Homo sapiens: one gene and its partner. The protein of the gene in region 1 purifies or fractionates together with the protein of each later gene. This does not show direct contact. Each region holds a gene or a part of one and is shown on either strand. Other genes may lie near its edges.

Region 1 (3,500 bases):
TAATTTATAAATTTATCTTCCATTCACATTTAATTTTAAATCTGAATGGGGGAGGGGAAGGGAGAGGGAGGGAATTAAGAGATCACAAAACATCTGTTATGAATAATTTCAGCACAGATGTAGTTGTTACTGCAAAAGAGATGAAGGTTTTCCCAGGTTGCCATACTGTAAGGTTTTCTACAAACATAGTTCATACCTCAACCTCCATGTACCAAGTCTCAATAAATACATAATGTTGATTAGGAGGAGAAATGTGCATATGGACAGATAAATGCAATCCCTATGTATAGAGGGAACGTGTATTAAACAACAGGGAGCTGTTTGAAGAAAGAGAAAAGTAACTTTGTAGAGAATGAAAAAAGCTTAAAGTTTCACAGCTATAATACAAATAGACACTTGAATTCAATTTTTTGCTTTTCCTTTCATAATCTTTCCATTTATCTACATCCATATTATATAATCCAAAAATATGCTTTAACAAAATTAATGAAGTTCTAAAAATTAAGTTGTTTTCTCTGAAAACAATCATAAAGCAAATTTTACTTATTAGAGAGCATTTTGCTACTTAAGTACTGTATTATATTGCCATCTTTTTAAGCAACCCAGTTTTAAGTTAACAGCGTAACCCACCTCCATCAAGGCTAAAATCCAGACATGCTCATAACATATTGAAATTTTTATTTAGTAAAACTAATGTCCTAAAGATGTTTCCTTTAGTGACATAATACTCAAAACACTGCCCCATGCAAAAGAATGATTAGTTTATATGGCAATGCCTACATAATAGATCAAATTTAATTTTAACTAGGGTTGCTACAAAACTTTCTCTACTACATATATTTCTACTTGCTTACTACTTTTAGTTCATATCTAGTTGAATGATTATTTAGCCAGTAATATGTACAACATCTACCCTTTAAAAAGTAGTTTAAAAAATCATTTTATCATATTTCCTAATCAGGACACTTTTTCTAGTTTAAAATTTTTTGAGTTTTCTTTCAACAATGGACTTTTATTTTAGCTTATATCTCAATTAGAAATAAAGAGCATGCATTTCCACATAAATTAGTGACTGTACTGCAAAGAAACCTTTTTCAATCCTATTTCTACAGCTTCAAGTTTTCTAACCTCTCGCTGTACTCTTGCACACTAATGCATATCTTCTTCCAACATCTGCATGATTTTTCTCCTCCTCTGCTGCAATTCAATACAGGTAGTTAAGAGTAGCTAACAATATAATTCCACATGATACTGCATCTGTGTTTACATCTGGCTCTAACCACATGCTTAAAAGTGATTTATACAGGTAAATCCACAAGAGGATAAAGCAAAAGAAAAACACAACTATGAGAAATCATTATGCTCTTATTTTAAAAATATCATTCTCAATTTAACAGAAGTTTCTCAGCACATGCTTCAAAAGCTACTACATAGGAGGTATGCCATTTCAAACATACTAGAGACTAGAGAAAGGAAGAAAACAGTATTAAACAAATATTTCACATGCTTTTTATATCAGGGTCATCTTCATAAACGATTAATATTTTCAATTTATAAGATACTTTAAGTTTTGCTCCATGCTACAATGTATCTCGTGACTTTGTGGCAAAGTTTCTGAGTTCATAAACATTTAAGTGAATCACACCTATTCACTACTGAGCCCTCAGGAATTAGAATACTAAATTCAAGAAATACCTGTCAGGAAATGAAAAACTATTTACACACACACACACACACACACACACACACACGAAGAACCATGACATCCTAAAATAAGAAATTAACACAGGCTTACCTGGCAATTCAATACCTACTTAGTTCAAGATAAACAGTATGGCTATTCCATTACGGTACTGATATTGATGCATTTATAAAAACACCACTAAAAATAATTAAGGAAATAAATACTTCTAATGTTCTACCTAATGAGAGGCTTAAAATTTACAGTTATATTAATATACCTATAAGAACACAAAATGAAAAGACATAACTAAATACAGTCTCATGCAATTATTTATATGCAATTTATATAGTTTCTTGAAAGGAATTATTTAAATACAAGCATACAGCAACGTACGAACTACAGAGTTTTACTGCATATAAGATCTCAAAGCAAACTTATATTCCTTAATTACAACTGACAAATTTAAAACGTATGCACTCACTGATTCTTAACTAAAAAGGTGGGGGAGGGCTACCAGTAGGAAAAGACCTGAAGGGGAAGGAAAAGATAAAATCTAAAAATCACTAACATCTAAGTGACTGCTAGTTACCACCTCCGTTAGTAGCTCTCTGCCAACCCATCCATAGTCTAAGTCTACATAAGTTATATAAAAATAATTACACAGTATTATCAATCAATTGTAATTTTCCTTGCTACTCTTAAACTTTGACCATTTTAGATGTATTTTAACATCTAAAATATATATTTTAAGGGATCTTACTATGAATTTTAAAAAGGGGTGATTAAAAAGTATTCTAAATATGCAACATAAATATGGGTCAATTATTACATATTCTTCTCCAAACCTAAGAACATAAAACAAAATCTTTTTAAAATAAGGAGTAATACAACTGCTCTAAAACAAGAATGAATTAACAGCAATCTCAATTAGAGACTTAAATAACTCAAATTTATAAAATTATTCAAGTTAAAACAGTCCTGCTTCTTTCTAGTTTCGGCAAACTAGAAAATGCTTATGCCTAATTTAACCAAGGCTAGTTTTAAGTAACAATAAGACTCAGAATTATACTGAAGGTCCCAATCAGCACAGTCGATAGAGAGACTTATGATGCTACCACACCAATAATCATTTTTGTTAGCATCCTCTACTGGTGGTTTCCAATGACAGCAAGGGGAAATGGTGCTGATGACAGAAGGATATGTACCTTCTATTCCATCTAAAGAGAATTAATCAGCATGTGGTCATTAGTAGAGTACATCTCTCTCTCAAAAAAAAAAAAGGTAGAACAAGAAGAAAACCACATAGAAGAAAGCAGAAAAAGAAAAAGACAGATTTTTTAAAATGCAACAAAGCATGAAATTATAAATGGTAAAAACTAATTCAAGCAATTCTAATGTCACTCCTTTACGGATGACTAACATCATTAAGTTACCACACAAGGTTTGATGCTTTGGCCAAACCTTACTCAATTGGTTTACCCCTGTCAGTTACATTACCTGATACTCCTTTTAATATCCTACCTTCAGACATATTCCAGAAAGGAAATTAAAATATTTTACAGAAGGCTTAGCAGCAAAATCCACGTATCTTATTTCAAAATGAATAAAACATTATTTACATATATAACAACATAAACTATCTCTACGACAATCTTCCACTGTATATATCACATATTTCTTCATTAAAAAGATTTGAGAGTTAACGTTTTGCCAGGCAATTTTCTCCAATAAACATCTGCAACTTAAATATGACTGCACTGCTAAGAAATATTAACCAGCACATATACTGAGGTTTCACAACACAATGGAATATAAC
Region 2 (3,500 bases), about 42 Mb from region 1:
CAGCCTGGCCAACGTGGTGAAACCCTGTCTCTACTAAAAATACAAGAGTTAGCCAGGTGTGGTGGTGGACGCCTGTAATCTCAGCTACTTGGGAGGCTGAGGCAGGAGAATCACTTGAACCCGGGAGGCGGAGGTTGCAGTGAGCTGAGATCACGCCATTGCACTCCAGCCTGGGCAACAGGAGTGCAACTCTTCTCAGAAAAAAAAAAAAATGAATAAAAAATCAAATCTTATATTTATGTGGTATTCCCCTCAAAGGCTCTGGAGAACACAGTAAGTACTCAATAAACACTTACTCAACTGTAATTATATGTTGGTTGTCAGCATGCAAGGAACCTGCACCATTACAGAAACTGTCACAGCCAAGCTAAGGAAAAGTTCTCCAAGTTCAATTTCACAGAATCATACATGCCATTTTAGAGTTAGAACATATCTTTTTTTAAAAAAAAAGCCAGTTCTCTCATTTTACAGGTAAAACCTTGGCCCTGGGATATTAAGTGACTTGTCCAAATTTATACTGAGAGTTAATGTTGGAATCAGGAAAATAGTTCAGGCTTTGGAGTTAAGTGCATCAATGTAAGTTACAAACATTCTTCATGTCTTCAATTTCCAGAACTGACTATGATGTGCACTTCAGGTGCAGGCTCTACTCTTCACTCTGTATTATCTCAGTCAGTGGCTACCCTGTAGGCATATAGTACATTAAAAATTCCTTGAACACCAAACTTGACTTTTCCTAAAGGGATCAGGAAGGTCTTGATATTGCTGGTTCAGTATGATCTGGAAATGTCCACACTGAGCATATGGACATCCTACTGCAAAGCAGACCTGGAGGCTGAATCTTGGGATTCTAAGCCATAGAAGAATATATTTTCCTCTCAGCCTCCCTCCATTTCATGCTGTCATGCTGAATCACTCTCAAACACCTATGAACCATTCTTTTTTTTTTTTTTTTTTTGAAACGGAGTCTCATTCTGTTACCCAGGTTGGAGTGCAGTGGTGCGATCTCAGCTCACTGTAACCTCTGCCTCCCGAATTCAAGTGATTTCCCTGCCTCAGCCTCCCGAGTAGCTGGGACTACAGGCAAGTACCACCACGCCCGGCTAATTTTCTGTATTTTTAGTAGAGAAGGGGTTTCACTATGTTGGCCAGGATGGTCTCGATCTCCTGACCTTGTGATCTGCCCGCCTCGACCTCCCAAAGTGCTGGGATTACAGGAGTGAGCCACCGTGCCCGGCCCTGAACCATTCTTTAGCACAGCATACTGGAGAAGCCATGGGCAAATACTTAGTAATCTCTTACTTTAGAAGGAGGGAAGTTGCCTATGAGTGGTAATTCTGCCCCTTCCTCCACTCTAGCCAGAAAAATGTCTAGGTCTTGTCCTGAAGGCTTTCTGAGTAAAGTCAAAAGTTCTATTACCTCCTACTAAGCTGGGGATAGTATCTGTATAGAACACTCCCTTCTGATCTTTCCCTGCTTTCAGCTTTTATATGATCCTCCCCCCTCCCCCCAACCCCTGGTTGCATTCTTACCTGTTTGGCTAAGTGGGTGCCAGGCGGTATCCTGCTGCCCCCATCCAGAACAGCCAGCTTGAGAAGCCTGAAGACTGGCCTGATACAGAGACTCCAATTCTGAGGTCTCCTGCTCTGTGTCTTGGTTCCAATGTGGATGCAAAAGGATGTGATTTCTCTCTGGATAGGTTACACACGTATGGGAATCATGAGGGGAGGACTTCATTCCTGGCCTAGGTGCCCCATGCTTAAGCTGAGAATCACAGAACCTTGTGATATTCACCCAGGAATCCAAAGGCAAGGAAGTCCCCAAGTCAGTACTGCTGCCCAGATCCTTAGACCTAACATCTCTCACTTGGGACAGCTTCTCTTGGTATATGTCTGGCTCTGCCAACCTGGGCTGTCCTCCGCTAGAAGTTTCACCATTAGGCAGCCCAGAGTTTAAGGCAAGAGAAGAATGTTCAGTGGACTCTTCCCAGGAAAGTGGTCTATCCCCACCCTCCAGAGAGGATTGTTGCTTTGCCCATGGCCAGTGGCCTTTCTCTTGACCCTGTGAGAAAGGAGGCTTAGAATCAGAAGGGGAAGAGTTCTTCCTTAGACTACCTGACAAACTTCTATCCTTGAAACCTGTACTATCCCTCATGGAGACACCCTGCATCCTCTGGAACTGCTCAGCCAGAGAACGGACAAGCCCCTTTGTGCTGGGAAACTCTGGCCTATAGGTCTCCTCACTGCCTCTGTCCACTTTTAAAGTCAATGAAGTTTTGAGGCTTTGGCCTTGGAGGCATTGGTTAGTTTTCTGCACAGGATCAGGACAGTGAAGCACAAATGAAGAAGCAACAGGCATTATGGGGTGGCAGGTTCTATACAGGGGAAGGCTGGGCTGAGCTGATGAATTTGAAGGACTACAGCCTAGGCTGTGTTCATCACCCCTCTCAGAGGTGGCTATTCCAGGCATCACCGGGGAGGGGTTAGCAGGATCCTTCTTTTCTTGGAACAGCTGTTCTTGAGCAATGCCTCTTCCTTCTTGTGGAGGGAGCTTGCTGCAACTGCTGTTGTCACACCTAGAGCCTTGCAGCTTACCCTCTGGGGCATCCAATGGCTCCCAACTATGATGAGAATTCTTCTCAGTCCACCCTGGTGCTTTAGGTAAACCTTGCCTGTGGAATGCAGAGGGTTCAATGTTGTCTACTTCAACCGAAGTCAGAAGCTTCAAGGCAGATCTACTGGGGGAGCTGTGCTGTGGGGCAGATGACTCTGGAGATAGTGATGAGTGTGACTCATGGCAGGAAGCAGGTGAATGGAAGAAAGAACTGGCCCCAAACTCTGTATCCATGCCGGATTCCAGTTGGGCCTCTTGGCTTAACAATACTTGGAGCGGGATAGGCTGTTCACTGAAACAAATGGAGAGAGCTAGTCATAAGCTGCCTTGACTGACAGGAACACTTACAGAAAGAACTCAACATTCCATTCCCATTTCTAGCTATTCACACAGGGAATGGTAAAAATAAACAGAAAGACAAGCACAAGTAGAGTCAGTAGTTCAGAGGATCACAAAAGAAAAGGCACATGGTCAGCTCACACTCAGGTAAATAGGTAACGTTAATCCTCTTTATTAAACACCCTCACCAAAGTTGCACAGTAACATTAAGTGGAGCCCTTGCCAATATTCTTCACTACCTGTGAAGTCGCATTCCAATCACATTCTACTTGCAAATTAGGAAACAAAATCAGCTAGTCTCACATGCAGATGACATGGAAGGTAAGCAAAGCCTGAAAATCACTCATACCAAACAGCAAAAATCCAGGATGCTATACAGGGAGGCAAGTCCTACCTGGGGTCCTGAGAGGCAGCCCGGCCAAAGGAACTATGAGGCCACATTTACAAAATACAGGGTGATTTGGGCTCATGGGAATACACAGAAATTAACCATTTCAAATATGTTTTTATAATCTGGATTTTGTTCTATTAGTCACTGAGATGTTTCC

What was found. Proteins that work in one complex are often made in the same cells at the same time.
Region 2: the proteins of ZEB1 (region 1) and USP54 purify together in Homo sapiens (affinity purification with western blotting; 2 studies listed by BioGRID, with this or other methods). This does not show direct contact.

Annotation. Positions count from the first base shown.
Region 1 is NC_000010.11:31,322,216-31,325,715, reverse strand, and holds part of ZEB1 (zinc finger E-box-binding homeobox 1), read right to left. Parts: intron 1-3,500. UniProt on the Homo sapiens protein: Acts as a transcriptional repressor. Inhibits interleukin-2 (IL-2) gene expression. Enhances or represses the promoter activity of the ATP1A1 gene depending on the quantity of cDNA and on the cell type.
Region 2 is NC_000010.11:73,514,843-73,518,342, forward strand, and holds part of USP54 (ubiquitin carboxyl-terminal hydrolase 54), read right to left. Parts: intron 2,906-3,500; coding exon 1,533-2,905; intron 1-1,532.